Linked DNA regions of Homo sapiens. The protein of the gene in region 3 purifies or fractionates together with the protein of the main gene of each other region. This does not show direct contact. Each region holds a gene or a part of one and is shown on either strand. Other genes may lie near its edges.

Region 1 (3,500 bases), on a different chromosome or scaffold from region 3:
GTTTCACCATGTTGGCCAGGCTGGTCTCAGACTCCTGACCTCAAGTGATCCACCTGCCTTGGCCTCCCAAAGTGCTGGGATTGCAGGCATGAGCCACCGTGCCTGGCCAGCTCCTTTTTGCCTCTCCGCTTGCCCTGTCTGTCTCAGCCCTCCAACCCCAGGCAGGGACACGAGCCCTACCCCTTGCGTTCAGGGCAGTGCTGCAGGGATGACTGTGATTAGAACAATAATAGCAGCTGCCATTTATTAGGCCAGACACTGCAGGGTGGTTTAATCCACAGCCCTGTGAGGTTGGCATTATTGTCATCCCCGTTCCTTAGTGGAGGAGAGGGGCTCAGACAAGTGACATGATTTGCCCAGGGACATGTGGCTACAAGCAGGAGTCACTGAGACCCGAAACAAGGTCTGGCTGAGCCCAGGGCCTTGCCCTTTCCTACTGCCCTCAGCAAGGGGGTGGCGTTGGACCAGCCCCTGGTGCAGAGCAGTTAGGCAAGCGCCTGGACACTGGGTGGAGGCGGATGGAAGGTGCGAGGCCCCTTGGAACCTGAGGCCTCCCTGGGGAGCTCTGGGTGTGCCTGGGGGAGGCTGACAGATAGGTGTTGGCCTGGGGGCAGAGCTGGTACTCTTGGGCAGAGGTCTCAAGCCCTCCCTCCCATCCTGGTTTCTCCAGAGCCCTTTGCCAAGTGGCTCTGGACTGGTCCTTCCGCCTCTCTGGCTGTTATCAGAGGCTTCCTAAGGGCCAGGGCCTTGGCCAAGTGCTCGTGCTCACATTCTCTCTGGTGTCACACCATCTGTGCCCTCGTGGATGGGATGGAATTAGGCTAAGGCCCTGGAGTGGCTTGTCCAACATCACCCGCTCAGCCCAGCACGCATAGCCAGGCCTCTAGTGCTGGGGCCCTCCCTTCTCACTCCTGTGTTCCCCCACCTCTCGATCTTCTTCACACCTCAGGTCTTCTTCATACCTCCTCACAGGCGTGGCTGAGGGGTGGGAACTTGAAGGGTCATAGGTCAGCAGGCAGGCACGCAGGAGGTCATGAGTCGCAGGCAGCCCCTTCCTGTGTCCCCTCCAGGGCCGATTCACGATTGCGGCCAAGCACCACATCTCCATTGCTGAGATCTATGAGACAGAGTTGGTGGACATCGAGAAGGTGAGTGGCAGCAGGGCCCTGCATGGGCTGGCAGCCAGGACCAGTGCTGCTCTCTCTTCTTCCCACCAGGGGAGTCCTCTGGTGTCTGAGTGCCGAGAAGGGGGCATGGGGCGCCGGCAGAGCTTGGAGAATGGGGTCTGGCTGTGTCCCAGGCAGGCAGGGCGGAGGGTGTGGAAGCTTCACGGAGGCCTCCTCTCCCTTCCCTGCCCTCCCCTGGAACCCATCCCCCGTGTCTCCCCAGGCCATTGCCCACTACGAGCAGTCTGCAGACTACTACAAAGGCGAGGAGTCCAACAGGTAGCCCCCTTCCTGCCTGCCCCAGCCCCGCAGGGACCGCCACCACTTCCCCTCACTACTCCTCCCCACACAGCTCAGCCAACAAGTGTCTGCTGAAGGTGGCTGGTTACGCTGCGCTGCTGGAGCAGTATCAGAAGGCCATTGACATCTACGAACAGGTGGGGACAGGTGGGGATGGCGGCTTCCACCCTGCCCCCTCTCAGGGCCTGTGCCTCCTCCTAAGCCCCGGCACCTTGTTCTGGAACCACCCCTCCCCCGGCTCACCCTCTGCCTCTCCCCCGACATCCCTTGCCATGTCATCCCCCCACCCTGTCTTCAGCCTGGCTGAATGTTCTCCACCTACGACTCCATGCCGTGCCAGCACCGTCTCTCTCCCTGGCTGTGCCCCTCCCACACCCCTCGCAGAGCTTCCTGGAGGGGCCCAGAGTGAGGCTGGCTAAAGAACCCAGAGGGAGGGAATGGGAAGAAGTGCCAAGAGGCCCAGGGTGGCCGTGGGCACCCCACCCCATGGCCCGATGGTCCTCATCCACAGTGGGAGGGAGGGAGTGTCACATGGGGTCCCCCCAGCGTGCACGGAGCCCTGGGTGATGGCCGAGAAAAAGGCAGGCAGCTGGCCCCCTGGGAGAGAGGGGCGGGCGCCGCCTCTCATGTTCCCACCGCCTGCCGCCGCTCTGCCCACCGCCATGCCAGCCTCCCGTTGGTCCTGACAGCCAGGCTGCCTCCTTCCCACTGTCTCAGGCTCTCAGAAGGCCCACGAACACCTGGCTACAGCCTCCACCCCCACCCAGCCACCATCACACCCTGATCTTGGTCGCTCACGCACTGGCCGCTGACCTCTCCAAGCTGGTCCCTGGCTCCCTGCCCTTGGGGTCCTGGGTTAACAGGGCCTCACCTCGGGACATGAACCAGCTCCCAGCTGGCCCCCCAGTGCCTGGCAGTGGCTCTGGCCCTCTGGCTGCTTGCCCTGAGCTCACCAGTGCCACTTCTCCATGGCTACAGGTGGGGACCAATGCCATGGACAGCCCCCTCCTCAAGTACAGCGCCAAAGACTACTTCTTCAAGGCGGCCCTCTGCCACTTCTGCATCGACATGCTCAACGCCAAGGTAGCACACCCCACGCCCGCAGGACCACCGCACCAGGCCACCATGTGCTTATCTCCAGGCCAGGTCCCGTTGCCCCCGAAGAGGGACGTGCTCCTCCCTCACGTCTGGCCCCTGCCAGCCAGCCTTTGGATGAGAAGTGTGGTTCTCACAGCTGTGTTTCTGTGCTGGCATCACCTGCCCACCCAGCCCTGGAGGCTTTTGCGGGTCCAGCTCCTGCCTCACTTAGTGCTCTTTCCTTCATGGGTGCACTTTTTGAATCCTCACTGCACCCCATTAAAGTCAGCACCATTGTCACCGCGTCTTATGGGTGAAGATGGTGAGGCTGGGACGAGAGTCCCTTGTTTGAGGCCACATGACTAGGGACCTGCAGCCCCAGTGTTCCAGATCTTTGTGACTCCTGCTGTCGTGGCTTTAGCTGTAGCTCACACATGCCCACCTATTTTCAGGACACTTGGCAAAAGAGGGGCCAAAGAGGGCAGTGGGAGGGGGCGTGGCCAGCGGGAAGGAGCTGGAGGGTTGGCGCTAGATTTTGCTTGGCCGGAGTTTTTTTACCATTGCCTGGCAGAAGCACGGAGTCCAGGATTTCCTGGTGTCCCTGGCTCACGGCCTGGGGTGGTGGCCCCACACACCCCACACACACACACCCCACAGAGCCCTGCCCTGCTGTGGGCACCGGTGGTGGGCAAAAGCTTGGGCTTTGTCAGACCAGGTTCCCATTCCCACCCCATGTCTCACCGTGCCCTGGGCAGGTCACTGCCCCTCTCTGGATCTGTTTCCTCACTTTGAAAAGGGGGCTCACCGTCATTTGACCCTCTCAGGGTCCTCAAGAAGCACCAGCCCCAGGCCTGGCATGGAGGATGTGCTCATTTGTCCCCTGCCCCAGCTGAGCCAGGTGGGAGGAGGCAGTGGGTGCCTATCTGGGGAACCTTCCCCCTCCACCCACCTCTCCCT
Region 2 (3,500 bases), about 49 Mb from region 3:
AACACTTGTCTAGTTGCTTGCTGTTTTAGTTTATATAAACTAAGAAATTTTACTTCAGTGGTTAGTCTTACTGCAGCATTTTTGATGGTCAATTAGTTGATTTCCATTTGCTTTTGGTAAGGTTATGGTTAAATTTAAAAATTTTAAAAATGTCACTGGCCTTTTTTTTTTTTTTTTAGAGCATCTGTGTGAATTACTTTTTAACTTAAATTCCAGTTAGCCTCTTAGGGATTTTTAGGAAAAAAAAATCTGCTGTCGTGATTTATACCTAACGAAGGAGTAGTGTCATGAGTGTGTAAAAAACGACATACAAAGGGGAATAGAACAGAGTAGAGAAGGTGAATAACTACTAAATCTGCAAGGAACACAAGGTAGTGTGGTGTTGATATTTTCTGTTAGGAGATATACCCATTTGTTCCTTTAGATCATATGCCTTATATGAGAAGGTGACGTTACATAAATATGGTAGCTGAGTCTGGGTCTCAGCTAGGAAATGCTGATTGGATAAAAAATTTGACTTTTTTTTTTTTTTTGAGATGGAGTCTCACTCTGTCGCCCAGGCTGGAGTGCAGTGGCACGATCTTGGCCACTTCCCAGGTTCAAGTGATTCTCCTGCCTCAGCTGCCTGAGTAGCTGGGACTATAGGTGAGCACTACCATGCCCAGCTAATTTTTCTCTTTCTTTTTTCTTTTTTTTTTTTTTTAAGATGGAGTCTCTCTCTGCCTCCCAGGCTGGAATGCAGTGGTGCAATCTCGGCTTACTCCACCTCCCGGGTTCAAGTGATTCTCCTGCCTCAGCTCCTGAGTAGCTGGAACTACAGGTGCCCACCACCACTCCCGGCTAATATTTGAATTTTTAGTAGAGACAGGGTTTCACCTTGTTGGTCAGGCTGGTCTCCAACCCTGGACCTCGAGTGATCCACCCACCTCGGCCTCCAAAAGTGCTGGGATTACAGGCGTGAGCCACTGCGCCTGGCGAGGACTGTTTTTTTTTTTTTTGTTTTTTGTTTTGAGACGGAGTCTCGTTCTGTCCCTGGGCTAGAGTGCAGTGGCCGGATCTCCGCTTACTGCAAGCTCCGCCTCCCGGGTTCACGCCATTCTCCTGCCTCAGCCTCCCGAGTAGCTGGGACTACAGGCGCCCACCACCAAGCCCAACTAATTTTTTTGCATTTTTAGTAGGGACGGGGTTTCACCGTGTTAGCCAGGATGGTCTCCATCTCCTGACCTCGTGATCTGCCCGCCTCGGCCTCCCAAAGAGCTGCGATTACAGGCGTGAGCCACCGCGCCGAGCCTGGACTGTTTTTTAATCAAAGACACTTTTATCTTTAAAATGAACATACGGTTATTACAATAGAAATCTGAGCAGATCCTCTGATGGCTTCCTCTGGTGATTCCCGTTTCCTGGAGTCTCTCTAAAACATAGTTATAGAAGAAATGAATTGTATATATTTTGAATCTATTTAATTCCTCTTCTTTCAGTTGAGGAGATGGGGTTGGAGAGGTAGGCAGTTTTCATATCATGTAGAGCCTTTCACACCTTCAAGACATTTTGTATTTTTCTTTGGCAGTACTTACCACTATCATGATTAAGTAATTATTTGTATGATCATTAAATGAATGTTTGTCTTGATAGACTAAGTTCTATGTGTTTAGGAGCCACACTGCCATCACCTGCAGTACAGTGTTTATATAAATAAATGGAGCTCATGGCAATCTTAAGTTTTGAAACCATTTTGTGTGAAAATTTGTTCTTACATATTTAATATAATAGATGTCAGAGAATATCATTTCTTAAAAATGTTAATCATTTGCACAAAAGGTCCCTATCCCTTTAGAGAGAATGACACGTAAGAGGCTGAATTAATTAGGAGATCATCAAGGAGTTGTTTTCTTTATTTGTTGGCTACAAGCATAGGGGTTTTTGTCTGGATTTGTTCACAGGTTTATTCCTAGAAACAGGAATAGTGCCTGTTACAGAAATATATGTTGAATCAATGAATCAATAAAAGTGAATGACACTCACAACTCAGTAATAAGAAAACAAACAACCTAATTAAAAAATGAGCAAAAGATTTGACCAGACACTTCACCAAAACAGATATAGGATGGCAAAAGACACACATGAAAAGGTGGTTAACATCATTAGTCATTAGGAAAATGAAATTTTAAACCACAATGAGATACTGCTACACATCTGTTAGAATCATTAAAATAAAAATAGCTGACAAAACCAAGTGTTGGTGAAGTTGTAAGGCAACTAAAACTCTCATATGTTGCTGGTGGTACAGCCCACTTTGGAAATCAGTTTGCCAATTTCTTATAAAATTAAACATGTGCTTAAACTAAATACTGCATGTTCTCACTTATAAGTGGGAGCTAAATGATGGGAACACATGGACACTAAGAGGGGAACAGCTGATATTGGAGCTTACTTGAGGGTGGAGGGTGGGAGGAAGGAGAGGATCAGAAAAAATAACTATTGGGTACTAGGCATAGTACCTCGGTGACAAAACATTCTGTACCACAAATCCCCATGACACGAGTTTACCTATATAACAAACCAGTACATGTACCTCTGAACCTAAAATAAAAATTAAAAAAAAATAACTAAATGAAACTATAAATGTATATGTGGGTCAGTACCAAGAAGTTTTTTTCACAAACCCCTAAGTATCTGATTTCCACTCAAGTCTTTTAAACTTGTTTGATGTTGCTGAGTAGCAGAGGTCTTTTATTTTCCACTTTTTAACGTACCTAAAAAGCATGAACCCTGCATTTCAATGGACTGTATTGTACGCTTTTTTGCTATAAAACTTTTTCATCAAACACAATTACATTGTTCAATTTTGTTGTAAACTTAACATAAGATGCACTGTTGATATGCTTTCTGATATGTTTGATAAGAGTGATAAAATAAAGCTTAAGAATTAAAAAAAAATTAAAAGTAAGCATATACTTAACATCTGTCCTAGAAACCTGCTCCTAGAAATTTGCCTAAAGGAAAATGAAACATATGTATACACACACACACACACACACACACAAAGACCTGTACACAGATGTTTGTGAAGGCTTTATTCATAATTTCTAAAAAATTGAAAGCAACCCAAATACTCATTAACTAGTGAATAGATAAATAAATGGCTAAATAAACTATGATACATCCACACAATGAAATATCACTCAGCAAGAAAAAAGAGCAAACTACTAATACAAGCAGCAACGTGGATGAATCTCAGATACATTATGGTTCAGTGAAAGAAGCCAGACTCAAATGGCTACATACTATGTGATTCCATTTATGTGACACTCTAGAAAGACAAAACTGTGAGATGGAAATCAGATAAACACGGATAAGGGTTCATCAACCAACAGGGCTGGAACTAGGGAAAGTGAATGGACTACCAAGAAGGGGAGCTGTTTGGAATGATGGGAATGTTCTGTATTTTGACTGTGACAGTGGTTATCCAACCATATCCATTTGTCAAAATTCATAGAACT
Region 3 (3,500 bases):
TGTTGATACTCTGCTCTTGAATTAGACACACTCAGGCATTAGTGCCACTGCGCAGCCGCAGCCCCTGGAGCACAGACAGCAGGGACAGGCCCCTTTGCAACATAGGAGAGAGAGGAACAGAGCGGAACCTCTGCTGTCTCTAAGTAGGTAAAAGAGAGGAGAGAAAGGTGTGGTGACTATATGCACACCCCATGCTTTCTGCGAGGGGGCCAGAGGGAGGAGGCTCTGGGAGGAGGCAAGGTGTCATTTGGGGAAGTTGGTTCCCACAGAAACATGAGGATTAGGGAATAAGCATTCCCCCCGGTAGCCCAGGTTCTGTCCAGGTGGAGAAAGACCACCCTTATTGTCTCTCATCAAGTTCTCCCTCCCAAAGGTGGTAGACTGCTTAAAGCCTTTCTTTTTTACTCTTCTGCCCTCCCAGTGCAATGTGCTAGCCTTGGCCTGCTCCTAGGAACATTTTATGTGGAGTATGATCATGGAATTGAAAGAATATGTGTAGAAATACTGCCTTCAGACCTATGAGGCTTTGTTAGTTTGACATAATTAGGAAGCTGTAATTTTTTCCAGAATGTAGAGCTCAGACTTTATTGACCCATTTAATTTTTTTTTAATAATGACATTTTACTAGAGCAGAACAGCATGTAACCTAGATAGCCTGTGGCTAGATCTCTGAATGATTTTAATTAAAAATAATGTCTCCACTTCTGGTAGATGGACTTTTTCCACAATATCCTGGCAACAAAACAATCTGGGAGAAAAAACTTCCTTGGTTTCTGTTGTTCTTACTAATAGAATAACCATACTGTCAATTTTCAATTTAGAAGGTTAATGTATATATATAATGTTTCCTAAAGGAACATTACCTTTTAATTAAATAATCAGTTTTATCAAATTAACCTTTAGACCTTTTCAATTTCACTGAGCTGAGTTTCCATTAAATCAAAATATAGAGTAGGAGGATGTTAATCGAATGTTCTTGGAACTAGTCATTTCTAGGTCTGTTCTGTCTGCAGGGTACATATTCACTGAGTTGGTACCTTTCTGACTCATTTGTCCCTGACCCCGTTAGCCTCTATTTCCGATGAGAAGGTTCCTAGTAGGGATGAACCTAAGGCTTTGGCCCCTCTGCTTGCCACTCTGGCTCCTCCCCAGAGGGGAGCCATTCATCTGGTGTTGGAGGTGGGCTGGGGTTGGGGAGAGGGGATCGAGCTTGCTGGCTTAGCGCCTTTGTCTCACTGTTGGGTCTTCCCTCGGACAGAGTCCATTCTCTCATGGTTGCCATCCCAAGCCTAAGTAACTAATAGAACAAGATCCTAAGGAGCATTGGAATAAGGAACTAATTCCATGTCACTCTTCAAGTTCCACTGAGAGAGGATCATCTATTCCCTAGGAGGCTGGAGGCTGTGGGATTTCTTTTTCCAACTCTTCCTTAGAAAATATGGAAGTGGGGTAGGGGCCGTGGGATAGGGGTGACTCCAAGGGAGGAGAGGATGCTTATCTGGTGATTGGGAGTGAGAAGGACTTCGTGCTCATCTTACCCCTTTCTTTTTTAGAAGGGCCTGTCCTCAGGATGGATGTATTCCCTGTTTGTTTGTGCCTTAAGTTTCCTAGAGAAGGCTTTGGGAGGGGGATGCCTACCTGTCTTGGGGTGGGGGGAAAAATCGGTTTAGGAGGAACTTACTAGGGAGCACAGTCGTAGCTGTGTATCAAGCATATTCTCCAACTCAGGCTCATTCATTGGTTCAGTTCATTCAAAAGTATTTATTACTGATTTATTAATTGATCAGCCTATTAAAAATGCTAGGCATTGCTCTTGATGATGGGGATACAGCAGTGAACAAACAGAAGTCCTTGCCTTTGTGGAACTTACGTTTTTAGAGGGGAGAGACAGGCAAGAAAAGAAATAATTACACAAAATATATGGAATGTTAGAGTGGGGTAAGTATCTTTACGGGGAAGGAAGAAGGGAAGTGGGATAGAAAATGTCAGGGAGGGGACAGTTTATAAAGAAGGATTAGGGAAGGCCTCATTAAGAGGGCAACATGGAGTAAACACCTAAAAGAAGTAAGGGATGCATTGATGCAGCTATCTGGGGAAAGAACATTCCAGAAGGAGGAGACAACCAACACATGTAAAGGTCCTGAGGTGGGAGTGTGCCTGGAATGTTTAGGGAACACCCTCCACCCTCTGATTCAGTCATTTTGTAGTGTGAGACCCTTCAGTAGCTGCGCCATTGTTCTCAAAAGCAGAGCCTACATTCTTTATAAGCCTGGCTTATGCTGTAGCCCTGACTCCACGCTCCTTCTCCCTCTCCCTCTCCCCATCTGGCTTACGTCAGTTGGGTCTATTCCGGAGGATTTTCTACCACACACCCTTCATATGTGTTCTACTATCTATCTAGATGGTTCTCTCACCTTTTCACCTGGCCTGTTCCTCCTCACCCTTCAAGTCTCAGCTTAAATGTCACCTGATCAGGGAGGCCTTTTCTTCTCTTCCCATCCCACTCAGACTATATTATGTTCTCATTTGCTGCTGCCCTTTCCTTTGCTGTCTTTTTTTAGCCATACCATGTCTGAATATGGGAGGATGACAGACACAGAACGAGACCAGATAGACCAGGATGCCCAGATATTCATGAGGACCTGTTCAGAAGCAATTCAGCAACTACGAACAGAAGGTAAAGTGCTCTGAAAGATGCAAACAAGCAACCATGAATATAGCAAGTAGTTAAACAAGATGCATATGGTGCGGCCAGTTAAAATTCCCTCTTCTTATTTCGATTTAGGTTTTAAAACGTTAAAATCTTTTCTTTCTTGATCAATGTTTTAACCAAAGCTGTTAAAAGTACTGCAAAGGCTGTATCATTCAAGTTAAACCAATGAGAGGAGGGAGATGGAAAGGACCTCTCCAAACAGAACCAAAAATATATCTAGGGGCCAGGGGCAGTGAAGACAAATTTGTGTGTGTGTGTGTGTGTGTGTGTGTGCGTGTGTGTGTGTTCTGTGTGGCAAATTGTATGTGTGTGGGTGTGTATGTGTGTATGCACATGTGTGCCTCTGTTCTGTGTGGCATTTAGTGGGATGGGAGTTGACAGCAGCCTGGGGTACTTAAGCTCTACTTGTAATATTCAAGTAAACTTTCCTATCAAACCTTCAAGGTTAGGAGGAAGGCTCTGGAGCCAGGGCTGCTTAGGTTGCACCCCAACTCCACCCGTCCGAGCCATATAGCCCTCTGCAAATCACTTAATCTCCCTGGGCCTTGTTTTTTTGTCTATGAAATGCAGACAATTAGGGAATGTATCTCTAGGGTTGTTATGAGCATTAAGTTAAATTCCTACAGCATGCTTAGAACTGTGTCTGGCACAAGAGCGCTTATTATCTCACTTTCGTTGATGTTTAATTCTCACTGAGACAATGAGATGGCTTCCCAAGTCACGCCTCTTTCTTGATTCTTTTTTAATTTGCTTAGGCATTTACAGAGTACATTAAATAGTAAGTAGA
Region 4 (2,488 bases), on a different chromosome or scaffold from region 3:
ACAGGCAAATCCATTGAGACAGAAAGTCAATTAGTGGTTGCCTATGAGTTGAGGGAGTGGGGAGACGGTATTAGAGGATAACGGCTTTTTTCTTGGTGATGAAAATGTTCTAAAATTGTGATGGATATACAACTGAATATATAAAAAAATCATTGAATTATACACTATTATTAGTTTTGAGATGGAGTCTCACTTTGTCGCCCAGGCTGGAGTGCAGAGGCATGATCTCGGCTCACTGCAACTTCCACCTTCCAGGTTCAAGCTAGGATTACAGGCACATGCCACCACACCCGGCTTATTTTTGTATTTTTAGTAGAGTTGGAGTTTCACCATGTTGGCCAGGATGGTTTCGAACTCCTGACCTCAGGTGATCCACCCACCTCAGCCTCCCAAAGTGCTGGGATTACAGGCATGAGCCACCGTGCCCGGTCGAATTATACACTTTAAATGGGTGAATTGTATGACATATGAATTCTATTTCAAACTGTTAAAAAAAAAGTATGCTAATGTGTTAACATGTTTTTGCTTTCAGTTCTTTCTACAACTTCAACAGGCTGCACTGGAGGTGTTTGCAGAGAATAATACTCTGAGTAAATTGCAGCTAGGACAGCTAGCCTCTATGGAGAGCTCTGTCTTTGATGACATGATTAACCTCTTAGAACGTTTAAAGCATGATATGTTGACCCGTCAAGTAGACCACGTTTTTAGAGAAGTTAAAGATGCTGCAAAATTGTATAAAAAAGAAAGGTATGTCCTCTATGTAAGTCAGCTCTTAACACCAGTTTGGTAAAAGTTAAAGAATATGTGGTCAGATTTTCAAGGTGTCTAGATAGAACCCGGTTTGGCCTTATGTACTTTATTGTTGATGGAAATATTTCTAAAGTATGTTCTCTTGGACATTTTTTTTGAGACAGTCCTACTCTGTCACCCAGGCTGGAGTGCAGTTGCACGATCTTGGCTCATTGCAACCTCTGCCTTAGAGGTTCAAGTGACCTTCCCACCTCAGCCTCCCAAGTAGCCAGGACTACAGGCATGCACCACCACACAAGGCTAATTTTTGTATTTTTAGTAGAGATGTGGTTTCACATTTTGGGCAGGCTGATCTCCAACTCCTGACCTCAGGCAAGCCACCTGCCTCGGCCTCCCAAAGTGCTAGGATTACAGGTGTGAGCCACCACACCTGGCTGACATTCTTAATCAGAATAAACTGATTATAATTTAGTTGTTTGTAAATATATCAATAGGATAGTGTGTGATCTGGGGTTGAATAGCCTAACCTGTCTCCCATTTTGCAAAGTAAAGTGCACCTGTGGTACTCTGCATACTTTTGTTGTGGTTTATCCCACTACCATTCACTGTGAACACCTGTGTTACTTTCATCCTTGATAGCAAGCAGTATCTTTTTGTCCTAGCATAGTCCCTGCCACACAGAGTGCTTAAAATTCGTTTATTAGTCCTGTTTTTACTAAAAATTAGAGGATAATATTAGCTGATGTCTTAATTAAAATGCTAAAATCAGGCTGGGTGCAGTGGCTCACACCTGTAATCCCAGCACTTTGGGAGGCCAAGGCGGGCAGATTACTTGAGGGCAGCAATTCGAAACTAGCCTGGCCAACATGGCGAAACCCTGTCTCTACTAAAAAATTCAAAGATTAGCTGGGCGTGGTGGTGGGCACCTGTAATCCCAGCTACTTGGGAGGCTGACACGAGAATTGCTTGAACCCTGTGGCTCTAGCCTGGCCAACAGAGCGAGACTCTGTCTCAAAAAAAAAGAAAAACTACATAAATAAAATGCAAAAATTAAGTGACATTTTAAATTGTAATTGCCTTATATCAGTAATTCACATATTAAAATTTGGGGATATTTTGGATATATCCCCATATTAAAGAGTATTTGAGAGTGAAAATATAAATACAGGTACATTTATTTTCTGATAGAGCTTTTAATGTTAGGCTGTATATTTTTTCTTATCCAAAATGCCCTAGGACAGAACACTTCCTCAAATTTAAAATGATTTAAAAACTTGAAAAATAGAAACTGATGAAAATTTTTTGGTAAAAATGTGTTTTTTCCAGATGGTTGTCCTTGCCATCTCAGTCAGAGCAGGCAGTGATGTCCCTGTCCAGTTCGGCTTGCCCGTTGCTGCTGACGTTACGAGACCATTTACTTCAGTTGGAGCAGCAGCTTTGTTTCTCCTTATTTAAAATTTTCTGGCAAATGCTTGTAGAGAAGCTGGATGTATACATCTACCAAGAAGTAAGTAAGAATAGACTGTTTTTGGGCTGTGATAATAAAGACAACTGTTATATGAATTATTCTTTGTTTCAGATAATTCTTGCTAATCACTTCAATGAAGGAGGAGCAGCCCAGCTGCAGTTTGATATGACTCGGAATCTTTTCCCTTTGTTTTCTCACTATTGCAAGAGACCAGAAAATTATTTTAAACAGTAAGCTCAACATTTAACAATTAATATTAATGTATCAAAT

The links.
Region 1: the proteins of STX18 (region 3) and NAPA purify together in Homo sapiens (affinity purification with mass spectrometry; 4 studies listed by BioGRID and IntAct, with this or other methods). This does not show direct contact.
Region 2: the proteins of STX18 (region 3) and SCFD2 purify together in Homo sapiens (co-immunoprecipitation; 4 studies listed by BioGRID and IntAct, with this or other methods). This does not show direct contact.
Region 4: the proteins of STX18 (region 3) and RINT1 purify together in Homo sapiens (co-immunoprecipitation; 7 studies listed by BioGRID and IntAct, with this or other methods). This does not show direct contact.

The regions. Positions count from the first base shown.
Region 1 is NC_000019.10:47,491,064-47,494,563, reverse strand, and holds part of NAPA (alpha-soluble NSF attachment protein), read left to right. Parts: intron 1-962; exon of another isoform or gene 963-1,070; coding exon 1,071-1,148; intron 1,149-1,389; coding exon 1,390-1,445; intron 1,446-1,518; coding exon 1,519-1,603; intron 1,604-2,444; coding exon 2,445-2,549; intron 2,550-3,500. UniProt on the Homo sapiens protein: Required for vesicular transport between the endoplasmic reticulum and the Golgi apparatus. Together with GNA12 promotes CDH5 localization to plasma membrane.
Region 2 is NC_000004.12:53,275,562-53,279,061, reverse strand, and holds part of SCFD2 (sec1 family domain-containing protein 2), read left to right. Parts: intron 1-3,500. UniProt on the Homo sapiens protein: May be involved in protein transport.
Region 3 is NC_000004.12:4,458,549-4,462,048, reverse strand, and holds part of STX18 (syntaxin-18), read left to right. Parts: intron 1-76; exon of another isoform or gene 77-143; intron 144-2,561; coding exon 2,562-2,677; intron 2,678-3,500. UniProt on the Homo sapiens protein: Syntaxin that may be involved in targeting and fusion of Golgi-derived retrograde transport vesicles with the ER.
Region 4 is NC_000007.14:105,563,201-105,565,688, forward strand, and holds part of RINT1 (RAD50-interacting protein 1), read left to right. Parts: intron 1-532; coding exon 533-747; intron 748-1,923; exon of another isoform or gene 1,924-2,076; coding exon 2,077-2,257; exon of another isoform or gene 2,258-2,329; coding exon 2,330-2,448; intron 2,449-2,488. Other genes in the region: EFCAB10 (EF-hand calcium-binding domain-containing protein 10), read right to left, coding at 2,349-2,415. UniProt on the Homo sapiens protein: Involved in regulation of membrane traffic between the Golgi and the endoplasmic reticulum (ER); the function is proposed to depend on its association in the NRZ complex which is believed to play a role in SNARE assembly at the ER.